2 separate regions of the Homo sapiens genome follow, and region 2 is linked to region 1. The links come from fine-mapping of genetic effects on gene expression. A gene starts in region 1. The other region holds a variant in brackets. All regions are shown on one strand. Distances are between the middles of the regions.

Region 1 (8,153 bases):
ATCTTGTGTAGTCTTCAACTGGTTAGTGTGAAATAGTTCTGCCACCTCTGACGCACCACTGCCAATGCTGTACGTACTGCATTTGCCCCTTGAGCCAGGTGGATGTTTACCGTGTGTTATATAACTTCCTGGCTCCTTCACTGAACATGCCTAGTCCAACATTTTTTCCCAGTGAGTCACATCCTGGGATCCAGTGTATAAATCCAATATCATGTCTTGTGCATAATTCTTCCAAAGGATCTTATTTTGTGAACTATATCAGTAGTGTACATTACCATATAATGTAAAAAGATCTACATACAAACAATGCAACCAACTATCCAAGTGTTATACCAACTAAAACCCCCAATAAACCTTGAACAGTGACTACTTTGGTTAATTCATTATATTAAGATATAAAGTCATAAAGCTGCTAGTTATTATATTAATTTGGAAATATTAGGCTATTCTTGGGCAACCCTGCAACGATTTTTTCTAACAGGGATATTATTGACTAATAGCAGAGGATGTAATAGTCAACTGAGTTGTATTGGTACCACTTCCATTGTAAGTCCCAAAGTATTATATATTTGATAATAATGCTAATCATAATTGGAAAGTAACATTCTATATGTAAATGTAAAATTTATTTGCCAACTGAATATAGGCAATGATAGTGTGTCACTATAGGGAACACAGATTTTTGAGATCTTGTCCTCTGGAAGCTGGTAACAATTAAAAACAATCTTAAGGCAGGGTGCAGTGGCTCATGCCTATAATCCCAGCACTTTGGGAAGCCCAGGTGGGCTGATCACTGGAGGCCAGGAATTGGGGACCAGCCTGGCCAACACAACAAAACCCCATCTGTTAAAAAAACAAAACAAAACCAAAAAAAACAAGTAACCTTGGTGGATGTCTACTCAAGTTTTCTGCACATTTTTCTGAAAATACAACTGTGACCCTTATCCAGGCCTGAAAACCATACTTGTAAAGGTTAACTGAACAACATTATTGTCATTCCCAACTCCAGGATCTTTTTCCAAAGATTCTTTCCTGAGAGCTAGTTAAGGGAAGGAATTATCTTAAAGCCTGGTTGTCCAATCTTTTGCTTTCCCTGAGCCACATTGGAAGAAGAATTGTCTTGGGCCACACATTAAATACACTAACATGTGCCAGCTGTGGTGGCTGACACCTATAATCCCAGCACTTGGGGAGGCTGAGGCGGGTGGATCAGGAGTTCAAGACTAGCATGGCCAACATGGTGAAACCCCATCTGTACTAAAAATCGAAAGATTTGCCAGGTATGGTGGCCTATGCTTGTAATCCCAGCTACTTGGGAAGCTGAGGCACAAGAGGCTGAGGTGAGAGGATCGCTTGAACCGGGGAGGCAGAGATTGAAGTGAGCCAAGATGGCACCACTGCACTCGAGCCTGGGCAACACAGCGAGACTGTCTCAATAAAAATTAAAGAAATTAACACTAATGATAGCTGATGAGCTACAAAAAAGTTCATGATCTGGATACCTGCTGCCACCTAAAGAGTCCTCACATTCAAAGGGTTGGACACAGCTATAAAGCGTATCGTTCTGTGGATTTTTAGTGTATTCACATAGTTGGCAACCATCACCAGTATCTAATCTTAGAATATAGGCTGGGTGCAGTGGCTTCAAATTCCCAGCACTTTAGGAGGCCAAGGTGGGTAGATTGCTTGAGCCCAGGAGTTCCAGACCAGTCTGGGCAACATGGCAAAAGCCTGTCTCTACAAAAAAGAAATTAGCTAGGCGTGGTGGCAGGTGCCTGTAGTCCTAGCTGCACAGGAGGCTCAGGTGGGAGGATCCCTTGAACCCGGGAGATAAAGGTTGCAGTGAGCCAAGATCCCACCACTGTACTCCAGCCTGGGTGACAGAGTGAGACCCTGTTTCAAAAAAAAAAAAAAGAATATTTTAATTAGCACAAAAAGAGGCCTGTACTTAATCCTGTAGCCTTTTGTAAACTTTGAGTCACCTTCAGTCTTTAAAATTTTTAAATTTACATTAATTTTATATTATTTGATACAATAAATTAGTCAATACCAACATGACTGAAAAATAATATTTAAGTGAAATAGACTGATTCTATTAATCTTTCATGAATTTTCAAATGCAATCTTGTAAAGTTTCCTTACTTATGGGCAAAATAAATGTTCCAGGTTCAGTTTGTACCTTCCTGCCCCAGGCAAGGAATAGGCCAACTCTGCAAAGAAACTTGATTTTTTTTTTCCATAGTAACCTTGGGAACTAAATTAAGCAGGCCTTATCCCCATCTCACAGAAGTTGCCAGTTAGTGTAGAAGCAAATGTGATGCTCAGAACATGGTTCTACTTCCTTTTTTTCCCCCACTAAAGCCCATGTTGCCAAAATAAAACTCAGTACTTCAAAGCCATGTTCTTTAAAAATTCTTTAAATTTTTTTTTTATTTTGGCCAGGTGCGGTGGCTCACGCCTGTAATCCCAGCACTTTGGGAGGCTGAGGCGGGTGGATCACAAGGTCAGGAGATTGAAAACATCCTGGCTAACATAGTGAAACTCCATCTCTACTAAAAATACAAAAAATTAGCTGGGCATGGTGGCGGGCGCCTGTAGTCCCAGCTACTCGGGAGGCTGAGGCAGGAGAATGGCGTGAACCCGGGAGGCGGAGCTTGCAGTGAGCCGAGATCGGACCACTGTACTACAGCCTGGGCGAGACTGCGAGACTCTGTCTCAAAAAAAATTATTTTATTTTATTTTGTTTTTATTTTTGGGGGTAGAGATGGGGGTCTCCCTATGTTGCCAGACTGGTCTTGAACTCCTGGGCTGAAGCCTCGGCCTCCCAAAGTGCTGGGATTGCAGGAGTGAGCCACCATGTCTGGCCCAAAAATTCTTTAGTGAGTACCTACTATGCTTTGGTAAATGTTGCAATGTACAAGAATAAATAAAGACAAATTTTGGTTCTAAAGTTACTGCAATCAAGTAAGCAAAATGTTAAGTAAGTTTGGAGTATTTGGGCAGGCATGGATGAAGAGCCAGTTCTAGTCATCTAGCATCAGTTTGGCCACTACCAAGCTGATACCTTCCTTGGCCGCCAGGGGCCTGAGGCAGGTGTAGAGCTTAAATTTCCAGTCCATCCAGGCCAGCAATCTCCCTCTCAGCCCGGGGATAAATGAGGTTGCTGTGGAGGTATAGGACCAAGTGGTTGCTGCTCCTGTCTGCTATAGGAGGCCTCTAGCTTCAGGCTAGTTGCTGGTTGAGAAAAGTGCCATAAGAGAGAGATATACAGGAAATGATGGTAGTTGACATTTGTCAAGGAAAGCCAGAGTATGTATGTGCAAAGCTGAAAATGAGGAATTAACCTTGAGAAGGGCTGGGGAAAGAGCTTTCTTGGTTTAAAGAACAGCAAAAAGTCCTGATCCAAAAAAGCTGTCCAAAGCCTAGTTGGAAGGAAGTGTATTGAGTGTCCTGAGATGATATGGGAAGTGGGGGTAGGAGGCCAAATCTTGAAGATCTAGGTTGTGGTAAAAGTGGGTTACTCTACCTGTAATGGAAAGCCACGGAAGAGTTTAAAGCAGGGTTATTGCATAATCTGAACCATATTGAAAACAAATACTGACTGGGTGCGGTGGTTCACGCCTGTAATCCCAGCACTTTGGGAGGCCGAGGTGGGTGGATCACTTGAGGTCAAGAGTTCGAGACCAGCCTGGCCAGCAAGGTGAAATACAAAAAAATACAAAAAAATTTGCCCGGCGGCTGGGCACGGTGGCTCAGCACGGTGGCTCACGCCTGTAATCCCAACACTTTGGGAGGGCGGATCACTAGGTCAGGAGTTGGAGACCATTCTGACCAACATGGTGAAACCCCATCTCTACTAAAAATACAAAAATTAGCCGGGCGTGGTGGCGCACGCCTGTAGTCCCAGTTACTTGGGAGGCTGAGGCAGGAGAATTGCTTGAACCCAGGCGGCGGAGGTTGCAGTGAACTGAGATTGTGCCACTGCACTCCAGCCTGGGCGACAGAGTGAGACTCTGTCTCAAAAACAACAACAATAACAACACTACAGGCTATTATAAGAAAAATAAATTATATTTTGGATTTTGAAAAAGGTTCAAATGCAAATACTCTACAAAAGATGGAGTAGGTTGTGTCCCCTTCTGTGAGATATATATCTCTCTCACAAAAAAAAAAATATATATGTAAATTTTTTTTGAGATGGAGTTTCTCTCTTGTTGCCCAGTCTGGAGTGCAGTGGCGCGATCTTGGCTCACTGCAACCTCCGCCTCCTGGGTTCAAGCGATTCTCCTGCCTCAGCCTCCCAAGTAGCTGGGACTACAGGCATGCACCACCATGCCCGACTAATTTTATATTTTTAGTAGAGACGGGGTTTCGCCATGTTGGCCAGGCTGTTCTCAAACTCCTGACCTCAGGTGATCCACCTGCCTCGGACTCCCAAAGTGCTGGGATTACAGGTGTGAGCCACCGCGTCCGGCCATGAGTTATAAATATTAACAATTTCTTGCTGTAAATTGAAAGCATCCTTCGCGTCTTTGCGTTTCATTACCACCCTCTGTTCTCTCAAGAGAAATTCTAACTTTATTTCAGCACTCAGTCCTGAAGTTACAGAAGTTAATAATTTTTTAAAATCCTGCAAACAATGCATGGATATCCCCGTCTTGCACACTCTTTGGGCCAGTCTAGAATTCTTCCCATCAGCATTTCGGTGATCTGGACCGCCGCCACCCACACTGCGCTCCAGGGCAGAAAAGACGCCCCATGCCCGCGCCTGGGCCGGCGGGGGGCGGAGCTTGCGTGCTGACGCATAAGAGCCGAGCGGGGGAACGTGCGTGTCTCGAGTCGCACGGAGGGCAACCGTCGACGGGCTTAGCGCCTCAACTGTCGTTGGTGTATTTTTCTGGTGTCACTTCTGTGCCTTCCTTCAAAGGTGGTGCTTTGTCCCTGTGGGTCATCTGTACTGATTGCGCCAAGCAAAGCATTTGTGAGCGTGTGGTGCTGGGGTGAAAGTGGTGGCTGGGGGCAGGGAGAAATCCAAAAGCCCGCTGGTGCCCCAGCCCTCCCATTGCCTGGTAGACTGGGCCTTGCTTTACCCTCCCCGCATCCTTTGACCAGGAAATTCTTTCTTTGGCTTCCCCCCATCCCCGGCTCCAACATTCTGCAAACTGAAGAGGTAGTTTCTTAGATGTTCAGTGTGGTTAATCCAATGAAATTGCATTATCCCTATCAGGTTCTCCAAATGTCAACTGTCAAGGAGCAGCTAATTGAGAAGCTAATTGAGGATGATGAAAACTCCCAGTGTAAAATTACTATTGTTGGAACTGGTGCCGTAGGCATGGCTTGTGCTATTAGTATCTTACTGAAGGTGAGTGAGAAGCCCATCCTGTGGCTGAAAATCAAGTGAGCACTTCAGAGTGTTGTATATGTCGATGTATTCAGGGTTGCAAGGTTAATCCCTTGAAAGCAATTATGTATCCTTTGACCTTTCCTCCCTCCCTCCCTCCCTCCCTTCCTTCCTTCCTTCCTTCCTTTTTCTTTCTCTCTTTCTTTTCCTTTTTTTTTAAACTTCTTCTTTCTTTTCCTTTCTTTTTTTTTCTGACTTTCCTTTTCTTTTTCTTTTTTTGAGACAGGATTTGTCTGTTACCCAGGTTGGAGTGCAGTGGCGCGATCTTGGCCCACTGCAACCTCCACCTCCCGGGATCAAGCGATTCTCCTGCCTCAGCCTCTTGAATAACTGGGGCCACAGGCATGCACCACCAGGCCTGGCTAATTTTTTATATTTTTAGTAGAGATGGGGTTTCTCCATGTTGGCCAGGCTGGTTTCGAACTCCTGACCTCAAGTGATCCGCCTGCCTCGGCCTCCCAGAGTACTGGGATTACAGGCATGAGCCACCACACCTGGCTGCCAATAGGTATTGTTTTTAACCCTTGTGCCCTCCTCCCTCTCTGCTTTTGGAGTCCCCAGTGTTTATTGTTCTCTCTTTTTTTTTTTTTTTTTTTTTTGAGACGGAGTCTCGCTCTGTTGCCAGGCTGGAGTGCAGCGGCAGGATCTCGGCTCCCGGCAACCTTTGCCTCCCGGGTTCAAGCAGTTCTCCTGCCTCAGCCTCCTGAGTAGCTGGGACTACAGGCATGTGCCACCACGCCCAGCTAATTTTTATATTTTTAGTAGAGACGGGGTTTCATCATGTTGGCCAGGATGGCCTTGATTTCTTGACCTCGTGATCCGCCTGCCTCAGCCTCCCAAAGTGCTGGGATTACAGGCATGAGCCACCACGCCTGGCCTTAAGTAGGGACTTTTACTTCTTTCCCTTACTGTTCGCTTTTGGAATCTGGCTATTGAAATCTGAATGAATACACTCCTTGTATATAGTTCCGTACTCTGTCACATGTGACAAAAACCCAGTTTAAATTAGGGTAAGCAGAAAAAGACGAAATATTGTTCATGTAACTGGAAATAGGGCAAAACTGCTTCAGGTACTACCGGATTCTGAAGTTCACACATATCAAGACATAGTCTTTGTATATCTTGGTTTAGATTTTCTCTGTTGGCTTAATTCGTAGAGCCTTTCTATGTGGTGGTAAAGATGGCTGTACAGTTTGTTCTTAGATTCTTGTTTTTTCTCCAACTCTACAGTCCTTACTAATGTTCTTAGATTTGCATGTTATTCTTAGAGCTTATGATTCCAAAGAAAAGTGAGATGTAATCTTCCGTCTTCCATTTTCAAACTTCATAGACATGCTTGTTTCTTATACCTGGGCCATATGTCCACTTATGAACTGATTTCTGTGACCAGAAGGAAAGGATGGAACAATTGGCTAGGTCTGGTTTTATGCCCATCTACCCTAAGCTTGGAAAACCAATGTTAATTGTACTGCACTGAAACATATGGAATGGGTTCCCATGGAAAAGAGAAATTCTATTACCAGAAAAAGGGACACTAGACAGATGAAAACAATAAGTGTTCATCAGAGGTGGTTACCTTCCTGTTTGGGCCATAACGACGCATACTAAAAGCAGCTTTAGCCAACTCAGAAATTAGGGTTAAGGTTAAATATAATAAAATCCTGGCCGGGCGCAGTGGCTCAGGCCTGTAATCCCAGGACTTTGCGAGGCTGAGGTGGGTAGATCACTTGAGGTTAGGAGTTTGAGACCAGCCTGACCAATATGGTGAAACCCCGTCTGTACTAAAAATACAAAAATTAGCCGGACATGGTGGCGGGCGCCTGTAATCCCAGCTACTCGGGAGGCTGAAGCACGAAAATTGCTTGAACCTGGGAGACGGAGGTTGCAGTGCCCGAGATTGTGCCACTGCACTCCAGCCTGGGCGACAGAGTGAGACTTCATCTCAAACAAAACAAAACAAAAAACACAAAAATAAAGGCTAAATATAATAAAAGCCTTTGAAATCATTTTATTTTCCTTGGTTTCAAACTGTTATCTGAATGGCAAAAAAAAACAAAAACAAAAAACACCCAGCTCTAAAAAGTTCTAACAATTATATGAAGTCAAACAATTTTTGCTACATCTTAATATTTACTTACCTTGACTTTCGGTCACCCAGGCTCATTGAAAAACTATTTTTATATCATTTTTCCCTATTAAAATATGAGATTCCTTTAATTATCAAGTAGCCACATGAAAATTCTTCTTATTCTCCTAAAACTTAAGTAGGAACATTTTATTCAGAACTTTTGTATATTTTAGGATTTGGCTGATGAACTTGCCCTTGTTGATGTTGCATTGGACAAACTGAAGGGAGAAATGATGGATCTTCAGCATGGCAGTCTTTTCTTTAGTACTTCAAAGATTACTTCTGGAAAAGGTTAATTTTAGTTTTATAAAGTTATTTTCAAAGCTTTTTAAAAAAGTAATAAATTTTACCAAACAGATGTCAATAAATATAAAATTAAAAATAGCACCATGCCATTGGGCCATATAATTTAATTTAGTTGATCAATTTTTTTTGTTTTTTGAGAGAGTCTCACTCTGTCACCCAGATTAGAGTGCAGTGGCGCGATCTTGGCTCACTGCAACCTCCACCTCCCAGCTTCAAGTGATTCTCCTGCCTCGGTCTCCTGTGTAGCTGGGATTACAGGCATGCGCCACCACGCCTGGCTAATTTTTGTATTTTTAATAGAGACGTAGTTTTGCCATG
Region 2 (10,550 bases), 580 kb before region 1:
GCATAGATTGCTGGTTACCTACTTATTATCCATTCTCCTCTTCTTTCCTGGTAACAGACTTCAAATTTTATTCAGGATAAACATATGCCCAGCTAAAAGTCTCACTTCCCAGCCCTCATGACAGGTTTGGCTATGTAACTAGGCTCTGGCCAGTTTTTAGTTGACATTGCTTGGTACCACTTCAGGGAAAGTGCCTTAAAAGGGCCTCTTTTTGGCCGGGCGCGGTGGCTCATGCCTGTAATCCCAGCACTTTGGGAGGCCGAGGCGGGCGGATCACGACATCAGGAGATTGAGACCATCCTGGCTAACACGGTGAAACCCCGTCTCTACTAAAAATACAAAAAATTAGCCGGGCGTGGTGGCGGGCGCCTGTAGTCCTAGCTACTCAGGAGGCTGAGGCAGGAGAATGGCGTGAACCCAGGAGGCGGAGCTTGCAGTGAGCCAAGATCGCACCACTGCACTCCAGCCTGGGTGACAGAGCGAGACACCGTCTCAAAAAAAAAAAAAAGGCCTCTCTTTGTCCTTTCTCCCTTCTATCTGGCTGAATATTGCTAGCAGCCATCTTGGACCTTGAGAAAATCTTGAAGACAAAGGCCTATGTTAAGGATAGTGAAACAGAGAGATAGAAATAATTAGGGCCCTTGATATCTGTAGAACTATTATAGCAATCTTGTGGGGGGATATCATCAGACCTGTCATGCGTGAATGTATTAGTCTGCTTGGGCTGCCATAACAAAAAATACCACAGACTGGGTAGCTGAAACAACAGAAATTAATTTTCTCACAGTTCTAGAAGCTAGACGTCTACAATCAAGGTGCCATCAGAGTTGGTTTCTAGCAAGTCTCTCCCTGGCCTGCAGATGGCTGCCTTCTTGCTGTGTCCTCACATGGCCTTTCCTCTGCATGTAAAGGGAGAGCAATTCCTAGTGTCTCTTCTGCATCTCATAATGATATGTCATATTAGATTAGGGCTCCATCCTTAAGACCTCACTTAACCTTCATTACCTCCTTAAATACCTTATCTCCAAATACAGTCACATTGGGGGTTAGGGATTTAATCTACGAATTTTGGGGAGAAACAATTCAGTCCATAACAGTGAGAGAAAATGCTTCTGTCTTGTCTAAGCCAATATTATTTCCGATGTCTAGCAATGTGCACACACTTTCTTAATGATAGACCTCCAAAATCCAAGGAACACCTTCTAAAGCTTCCACCTTGATGGCCTTGTTATCTGAAAGTCCAAAGGAAGGTACCAGAGATGGCATTCTTAAGTCATTTTGAATGCTGATTCATTAATCACTTTCATCCATTCAACTGACAAACATTTACTGAGCATCTACTATACGCCAGATACTGAGTTATGTGCTGGGGACACTAAAGTAAATGAAAATGGTCCTTGACCTCTAGGGGCTTATAGTTTTTATTGATTTACTTACTCTAAGCTCATCTCCTTTGAAAGGGTATTCCTATAATACAGTAAATAAAATACAAGCGGAAATTCAAAACCATGGAAAGGAGGCGTATCCAAATGCCAGCCCTAGGAGCTTATATACATGCCGAAATTGAGCATCCAGGTTGGCTTTAGCTTCCTAGCAACCATGAAAGAGCAAGAGAGCGTGACTTGGTTCTTGTTTTCTGAAAGGAAAATGAATCCCAATCACTCACAGAAGTCAAATGTAAGCATTTTCTTTTCTGAACAAACTCTACCTAGTGTTTGTGGGTGCCCTGAATGTCCTGGAAAGTACCATTTTCTGATCAAATCCTAGTCAACGTTCCTCTAAATTCTATGTGCAGTTCATTAGCTCTTAGATACTCATTGAATAAAGCCAGAGAGTTCCATGGTTTGCACACATGCTTTTGGTTTCCTACTTTAGAGCTTATGGAAGACTGTGAGAGATCACTTCACTCACAGAGAGAATGGGGACTGGTAAATACAGAAAGCTCTGAAGCTTGGACATTAGGTGTATGATTTTAAGAATAAGAAACAGCAAGATGGTATGACCCTAGAAAAGGGCCAGGGTATACAGAAAGATGAAACATCAAGATGAAGTCAGTACACCTCACTCACAGGGTTCCTTTCTTGGTGTATCACAACAGGCAGCATCTTATAAGAGAAAGAGTATGGGTTTGAATCCCAGCTCTGCTACTCTATAACTTACTAGCTCTGTAATTTTGGGGGCTTTAGCAGCCCAGAGACTCAGTTTCCTCAGATAAGATGAAAATGGTGTCTACCTATCATGGGAATTAACTACCAAAACATATATGTAATCTCTGCCATAGTGCAATTATGGTAACAAAAGCCTACATATAAGGGCCTGATCTGTGCCAAGCACTGTATTATACACTTGACATGAATTATATCATTTAATCTTCACCATAAGGTAGATGCTATTCAAGAATTCGAAAACTGTTGGTTTCTCCCCAAAGCTATGCCAAGCCATATCCTTTGATATTTCTGAAAGGAATGTATCAGTGCTTAGAAGCCTCTTTGCCAGATCCACTCCATGCAAAGCAGCTATATTGACACTAATTTTGTAACCATCTGCAATCCCAAAAGTTTGCCGCAACTGGTATAGACTTTTAATTCTCGGGCTCCCCAGTGGGAGTTTGAAGAACTCAAACCCTTCCAAGAGGCTCTTTTTAACCTCCATTTGCAATGGGAAGAAAGACACTGAGGAATTTGGAGCATGCTATTCAAAATAGAGTGCCCAGGCTGCACGGATGGGGAGTGGGAGTTACTGTTTAATAGGTACAACATTTCAGTATGGGAGAATAAAAATGTTCTGGAGATGGATGGTAATAATGGTTTCACAACAATGTGAATGTATTTAATGCCACTAGACTGCATGCTTAAAATGGTTAAAATAATAAATTTATGTCATATATATTTTACAATAAAAGTAACAATAGTAATAATAATAACAAATAAAGTAACCAGGGCTGTGAGGAATCTAAACATCATATATGATAGAGAATATGTGAAAGAATTTAAGTGTTCTGAAGGAAAAAGTTTGAAAGCTCTGGTTTACAGGACAATGGTACTTACTACTTATGAAGCATATCATATATGTCAGGACTTTACCTAGATTATCTTTATTCTCCAGCAGGGCCCTGCAAGGCATTCCTTGCTTATAAGGATCACACAGCTAGAAAGTGGTGAAGATGGGATTTGAATTCAGCCAGTGTTCTTTCTTCTATACCACGCCGCCTCTCGTTCAAATATTAAATAGATGCCTGGATTTTAAAATGCCGAAAATTTATCTCAAGCCTGAGATTTTATTATTCTGAATTGGGATGTAGGGGGTAGAAAGGTCAGATATCCATCTTCTTGAAGGCTCCCTGTACTGCCAGGGCATGTAGGTAAACCTCTCAGCCTATTGAATCCTGCCCTCTAGGGGCAACCATTATGATAAGAGGAAACTGGAGGGTCCTTGAGATCAGAACCAGAGGCAAAACCAGGTTGATGCTGCCAGGGGACTGCATCAGGGCCGCTGGATCATAATCAGCTCCTATGGCTGGGGAGGGAGCCATCAGCCAACAGAGAACACAAAGTAAGCTCCAAATACAGAAAGAGCTACTAAAAGCATTTCTCCCCACAGTGTAGTCACCATATCCCAGAAGAGAAATTTTGAAGAGGAAGAGAAAGACAATGACACAGGAATAATTAGAGTTCGGTGAGAAGGCTCTGAAATCTGCAGTGTATGTTCAAATCCTAGCCTATTGTTCTGTTGGTAAGACTTGTAACAGTTCTGGAGCTGCAGCACAATCTCCTACTTGCCTTGGGTGCCCTCAGAAATCCCTCGGCATCACCTCCTACTCTTCAGTTACCTCTCGCCGCATCACTGAATCTTGCCCTCCAGAAAAACAGATTTGGGAAATGATCCTCAGGTCTAACTCAGTATCACGAACTTCCAGATAACAAAGGTATTAGGCCAGAGTGAAAGGATGAGTGGCAAGGAAATGGGTTTTCTGCAATGCTGGCTATTGATCAGAGACTCCTAGACACTGAATCTGTATTTTTCCCCACTGGATAAAGATGTAGACTTGCTGACCATTAGTTTGCTTCAAAAAGTGGAAGAGCTTTTTGTATAAGAAATGTTTGTGAACATTCTCTTAAAGGAAAACATAGCAGCACTAAGTTCTTCAAGAATGATGAGACAAGCCTTGAGTGAAAAAGGCCTGTGATGCAGCAAGAAGGGGCTGATTCCTGGATGCAACAGAACTCTATTCTGCATGGATGGTGTTACCTGCAGCTGCAAGTTCCACTAGGGAGCTAGGGGCTAGTGAAGGCGGAGTTGAGATACCCCGTATCTACTGTGTGCTGCCTGGACTCCTCACTCTCAAAACGTGTCTGTATCCTTGAGTGAGTAAGTCGGGAAGTTGATGTAATCTTACATGCGTGTGTGTTACAGGTATGAGTGTGTGTTTGTGGCCTCTTTCTACCAATCCACAGATTCTCACTGCATTTCCTCCAGCTTCCTTCAAGAATTTTCTCTTTAAGCTTGTAAGCCGG[T/G]ACGCATTCATGTGAGCTCCACAGATGGCCTGCACCGGCAGCAGGAGTCTTTCCGAGAAGAGCCTTGGAATAGTGAGCAGAGCTGTGGCTGACCAGCCCTGCCGTGTGGATCCAGCTGGAGTCAGCTGGGCTCTACTCCACACAGCGCACGGCTGTCGCCTGCTCACTTCAAGTGGAGGATCTGGCACTTATTTTAGGTCCTTATAAATAATACATTTTGTCATCTTGATTCTTCAAGGCCTTCTTTTAAGCTATTTTTTCCTCTTTGGGAAAACCGCTTTTACTCTACAAGACAGAGTTGTTCATAAATCAAGAGGAGTTCCTGGTGGCCAAAGCCTAAGTTCCTGACTCCAGAAGAAGTGGGCAGCCACCCAACCTGATTAGTCAAAGCCTCATACCAGAAGAGAATCTTATTTTAAGGATGAAAAGAAATGTCCAACATCTGATTCCTTCACCTCCAACCCAGAAAGTCCTAGTGCCTGAGCTTTAAATACGACATTCAACCCCTGCTTCCCCGAGAGTCCCTACAGGCTCATCAAGGTCAGGAAAATACTGAGGGTTCTTACCATCCGTAAAATGGGAACAAGGCTTCCTGTGTATAATTGTCCAAGTGTCTGGCATAAAGTCAGGGTTCAGCCTGTGAGCTCCCCGTTAACTCTTCTAGTCCCTTGCAACTCCCAAGAAGATACATTTATACTTTGAAAAATTGTTACTTTCTTCCTTCTTCACAACCATGAATCAATCACAGAGGAAGTGTTTTCCAGTTAATATGGCACAAAGAAACCTAGTAGGACAGTGACAAAGTGCTGAACTGGAATCAGATAGACCAGGGCTTGAGGCCTGGCTCTGCTACTTGTTACGTGACCTTGGGTAAGTTCCCTAATCTCTCCAGACTTCAATGTCCTAATCAATAAATCGGACAAACCACTAACTTTATAGTCTCTTGCAAACTTTATTGTGCATAAAAATTACCAGGGAATACTGCTAAAGTGCAGATTCCGATTCAGCAGGTCTTAGGTAGTACCTGAGGTTCTCCATTTCTAATTAGCGTCTCCCTCCCTGCCTCTGGTTTGTGGACCACCTTTTGACCAGAAAAGAAGAACATGAACAGTCAAGACATGTTGTAAGTTGTAAAGGGCTATGCCACTTTAAAGTCTGATTCATTAACCATTATCGTTTTACCTTAAAACACAAAGAAGACCATGAATTAACCCTTGATTCTTTATGGGTAAGCAAAATAGTGATTATTTATCTAGTAAAATAACAGGAGCTGGGGTAAACCAGTTGTCACCAATCCTCTCCCCACACCACCCAAAAAAAAATCCAACAACTACTAACCAACAAACTGCAACACTCCTCCTATCAGCTGTGAAAAAGTAAACCTACAAACAAAATCCCTAATAGAGCTTAAAACTATTTCAGATGAAAACTTTTAGGGGTGACAATGTAAACTACCCTGATCCTCAAAAAAGCATTGTTTTAAGACCAAGTGTTTATGACTAAACCTAAGTGTTGGTTTTGAGTATAAAAGCAGATTTGGGTAGGTTGAAAAAGAAAACAAAAAACACATAAACATTGAGTTCCTGAGATTAGTTTGATGGAGGAGGAGAGGAAATTGATGACAGAATTTAATGGAATGGAAGAAGGAAGCCAGTGACAAGGACTGTAAAAAGGGCTTTCCTCCTTCTTGGAACAATCCTATACTCCAAGGCCAACTCCTTGGTGACACCTTTCCTGACAGGCTCAGATAGAGGTGATTTCTGCTCTGGTTGCCAAAGCACTAATACCCACCTCTCTACCCATCCTGGGGCCAGTGCTTATCACACTGTATTGAACACTCACATTGATCTCCAATCCCTTAAGGTCAAGGACCACATCCTATTTATATTCTCAGCCTGGCATAGTGCCCTGGCACATATTAGGCACTCAGTGAATAATGCTGATTGAATGCATGAAGTAGGGGATGTTGAAGAAAAAGTTAATGACCTTTCTTCAGGGTTTGCCTTTCCTGGAGCTATTCATTCATATATTCACTCACTTGGTGTCTTAGTACATTTTGTGCTGCTATAACAGAATAGCACAGACTGGATAATTTATAAATAATAGACGTTTATTGGTTTATAGTTCTGGAGGCTGAGATGTCTAATATCAAAGTGCCAGCATCTGGTGAGGGCCTTCCTGATGCATCGTAACATGGTAGATGGCAAGAGAGTGAGAGAGAGGAAGAGAGAGGGAGAGAGAGAGGAAGAGAGGGAGAGAGATGGGGAGAGGGAGAGAGGTGGAGAGAGAGAGAGAGAGAGAGAGAGGGAAAGGGGGAGGGAGAGGGAGGGAGAGAGAGAGAGAGAGAGAGAGAGAGAGAGAGAGAGAGCACATGTACATGCAAGAGTAAGTCAGGATGAACCGACTCCCTCCATAACAGCATTAGTCCATTCATAAGGGCAGACCTAAACACCTCTTACACGTCCCACCTCTTAATGCTGTTATAATGACCAAGTTTTAACATGAATTTTGGAGGGGACAAACATTCAAACCGTATCACTTAGTAAGCATACATTTTCTAAGTGTGAGTACTCAGACCATTTACTGGTTTTCAGTGTATTTCAGTCTAAGAAATATTTCAAATTTTCTTTATCTCAAGACTGTAAACTTAATAATATGTGATAAGTAAATATGTATAAACTTTTAGCATCTTCCCAAAGTACTTTTCTATTTTCACGGTAAACTGAATATATAATTTTCCTATTTTAAAACAAGGAAACTGAGGTCCAGGAAAAAAAACTATCTAAGGCAGAATCAAACTTTAGGTAAATAAAAATCACTTGGTGCACTTGTCAAAACTACAAGTTCCTGTCACCTACCTCCAGAGATTCTGATTCAGCAGGATGAGATAGAGCCCAGAAACCCACATTTTAATATTCCCCAGGTGATTCTGATGCAAGTGGTCTACAGACCTGGGGCAAGACCCCTACACAATTAAAGTCCAGTCCAGCACTCTCCTTCAGGCTGGGTGCCTGGCCTATTCTGGAGGTCAGCACGGGTTGCAGGTTGTCTCAGGGCTTTGGTTTCAAACCTAGAGTCACAGGATGGGAGGCAAGTCACATGTATGGCACTTTCATGGGGCCTGGTGGCAAAGCCAAAACCAGGGACACACTCAGACAATGAGGGCAGTTCCAAGAGCCCATGAGTAAAATCATGAAGCCAGAATAGTAGCTGGCAAATGGATCCCATTTCTGAGGACTTAAGAGCTGGAAGGCCAGGTTCTGGAAAAGAATTAGGCCTTCTAGGGAAGAGGAACAACAACAACAATTGCAAAGAGGCTCATTTGGGGAAATACTGGAAGTGTTTGATGTATTTATCTTGGCTCTATACCCTTTCTTTTCCACTTTGAGATAGCCTACCAAATGGACAATTCAGTAAAGAACAATAACTGAAGACAGGGTAAGTTTCCCTCTTGTCTGTCTTCCACATCCAAGTCCTGCTGACTGGACCTCTATGTTCTCTCCCATCAGCCCCTTCTTCATCAGCCCACTTCCAAAGCCCTAATTAAAGACCTTGTGCATTACCTTTCATCTGAACTGTAAAAACATCTCAAGGCTCTCCCTGACTCTTGCCTCTCCTTCAAACTACCTCCCCTAGAAAGCCTCATTAATCTCCCCAGAGCATAGGTTTCATCACAGAGTGTAAAAAGTCCACTATATCTGAAGCTAGAAGATCTGGTTCTGGCCCCAGCTCCAGCACCATCATTAACTAGTTGTCTGACCTTGGGTTAGCAACTTCCCCTTTTGGGATTCTGTCATTATGTGTGAGATGGCGATATGGTTTGGCTGTGTCCCCATCCAACTCTCATCTTGAATTCCCATACGTTGTGGGAGGGACCTGGTGGGAGGTAACTGAATCATGGGGGCAAATCATTCTCGTGCTGTTGTCATGATAGTCAATAAGTCTCATGAGATCTGATGGTTTTAAAAAGAGGCATTCCCCTGCACAAGCTCTCTCATTTTTTGCCTGCAACCATGCACATAACATGTGAGTTGCTCATCCTTGCCTTCCGCCATGATTGTGAGGCCTCCCCAGCCACGTGGAACTGTAAGTCCAATTTAACCTCTTTCTTTGGTAAACTGCTCAGTTTCAGGTATGTGTTTATTAGCAGTGTGAAAATGGACTAATACAGTAAACTGGTACCAGTAGAGTGGGCTGCTGCTGAAGATACCCGAAAAAGTGGAAGTGACTTTGGAACTGGGTATCAGGCAGAGGTTGGAACAGTTTGGAGGGCTCAGAAGAAGACAGGAAAATGTGGGGAAAGTTTGGAACTCCCTAGAGACTTCTTGGAGACTTGCTGGATGGCTATGATCAAAATGCTGATAATGATATGGACATGAAATCCAGGCTGAGGTGGTCTCAGATGGAGATGAAGAATTTGTTGGGAACTGGAGCAAAAGTGACTCTTGTTATGTTTTAACAAAGAGATTGGCGGTATTTTGTCCCTGCCCTAGAGATTTGTGAAACTTTGGAAAGAGATGATTTAGGGTATCTGGCGGAAGAAATTTCTAAGCAGCAAACATTCAAGAGGTGACTTGGGTGTTGTTAAAATCATTCAGCTTTATAAGGGAAGCCAAGCACAAAAGTTTGGAAAACACCTGACATTTTCCAGCCTGACAATGCACTACAAAAGAAAATCTCATTTTCTGAGGAGAAATTCAAGCCAGCTGCAGAAATTTGCATAAGTAACGAGGAGCCAAATGTTAATCCCCAAGACAAGGGGGAAAAATGTCTCCAGGGCATGTCAGAGCAGCCCCTTCCATCATAGGCCAGAAGGTCTAGGAGGAAAATATTATTTTGTGGGCTGGGAGCAGGGTCCCTGTGCTGTGTGCAGCCTAGGGACTTGGTGCTCTTTGTCAGCACTGGCTGAAAGGGGCCAACGTAGAGCTTGGGCCGTGGCTTCAGAGGGTGCGAACCTCAAACCTTGGCAGCTTCCACATGGTGTTGAGCTTGCAAGTGCACAGAAGTCAAGAACTGGGGTTTGGGAACCTTCGTCTAGATTTCAGAAGTGTATAGAAAAGCCTGGATGCCCAGGCAGAAGTTTGCTGTAGGGGTGGGGTCCTCATAGAGCACCTCTGCTAGGGCAGTGCAGAAGGAAAATGTGGGGTGGGATTCCCCACACAGAGTCCCTACTGGGGCACTGCCTAGTAGAGCTGTGAGAAGACGGCCACCATCCTCCAGAACCCAGAATGGTGGATCCAATGACAGCTTGCACTGTGTGCTTGGAAAAGCTGCAGACACTCAACCCCAGCCCGTGAAAATAACCAAGAGGGAGGCGGTACCCTGCAAATCCACAGGGGTGGAGCTGCTCAGGACTATGGGAACCTACCTCTTGCATCAAGTGACCTGGATGTGAGACACAGTGTCAAAGGAGATCATTTTGGAGCTTTAAGATTTGACTGCCCCGCTGGATTCTGGACTTGCATGGGGCCTGTAGCCCTTTGTTTTGGCCAATTTCTCCCATTTGGAATGACTGTATTTACCCAATGCCTGTAACCCCATGGTATCCAGGAAGTAACTAATTTGCTTTAGATTTTACAGACTCATAGGCAGAAGGGACTTGCCTGGTCTCGGATGAGACTCTGGACTGTGGACTTCTGAGTTAATGCTAAAATGAGTTAAGACTTTGGGGGACTGTTGGGAAGGCATGATTGGTTTTGAAATGTGAGGACACATGAGATTTGGGAGGGGCCAGGGTGAAATGATATGGTTTAGCTCCGTGTCCCCATCCAAATCTCATCTTGAATTCCCACGTGTTGTGACAAGGACCTGGTGGGAGGTAATTGAATCAGGGGGGCAAGTCTTTCCCATGCTGTTCTCATGATAGTGAATAAGTCCCATAAGATCTGATGGTTTTAAAAAGAGGTGTTCCCCTGCACAAGCTCTCTCATTTTTTTGCCTGTCTACCACCCACGTAAGATGTGAGGTGCTCCTCCTTGCCTTCCATCATGATTGTGAGGCTTCCTCAGTCACATGAAACTGTTAAGTCCAACTAAA

The links. PIP is the estimated chance that this variant, and not a neighbour inherited with it, causes the effect.
Region 2: its variant is fine-mapped to the expression of LDHC in minor salivary gland (GTEx, PIP 0.94).

What each region holds. Positions count from the first base shown.
Region 1 is chr11:18,407,482-18,415,634 of GRCh38, forward strand. It overlaps LDHC (lactate dehydrogenase C), which reads left to right and starts at 4,837. Exons shown (of 8, transcript NM_017448.5): 1 at 4,837-4,927; 2 at 5,228-5,362; 3 at 7,703-7,820. The coding sequence starts at 5,237. It overlaps LDHA (lactate dehydrogenase A), which reads left to right. Exons shown (of 8, transcript NM_005566.4): 8 at 1-944.
Region 2 is chr11:17,823,807-17,834,356 of GRCh38, forward strand. All of the region lies in intron 10 of SERGEF (secretion regulating guanine nucleotide exchange factor), which reads right to left. Among named protein-coding and RNA genes, the nearest start is that of KCNC1, 94 kb to the left of the region's middle. RefSeq lists an enhancer at 9,418-9,918. The variant T/G (reference allele first, on the strand shown) is at 4,515.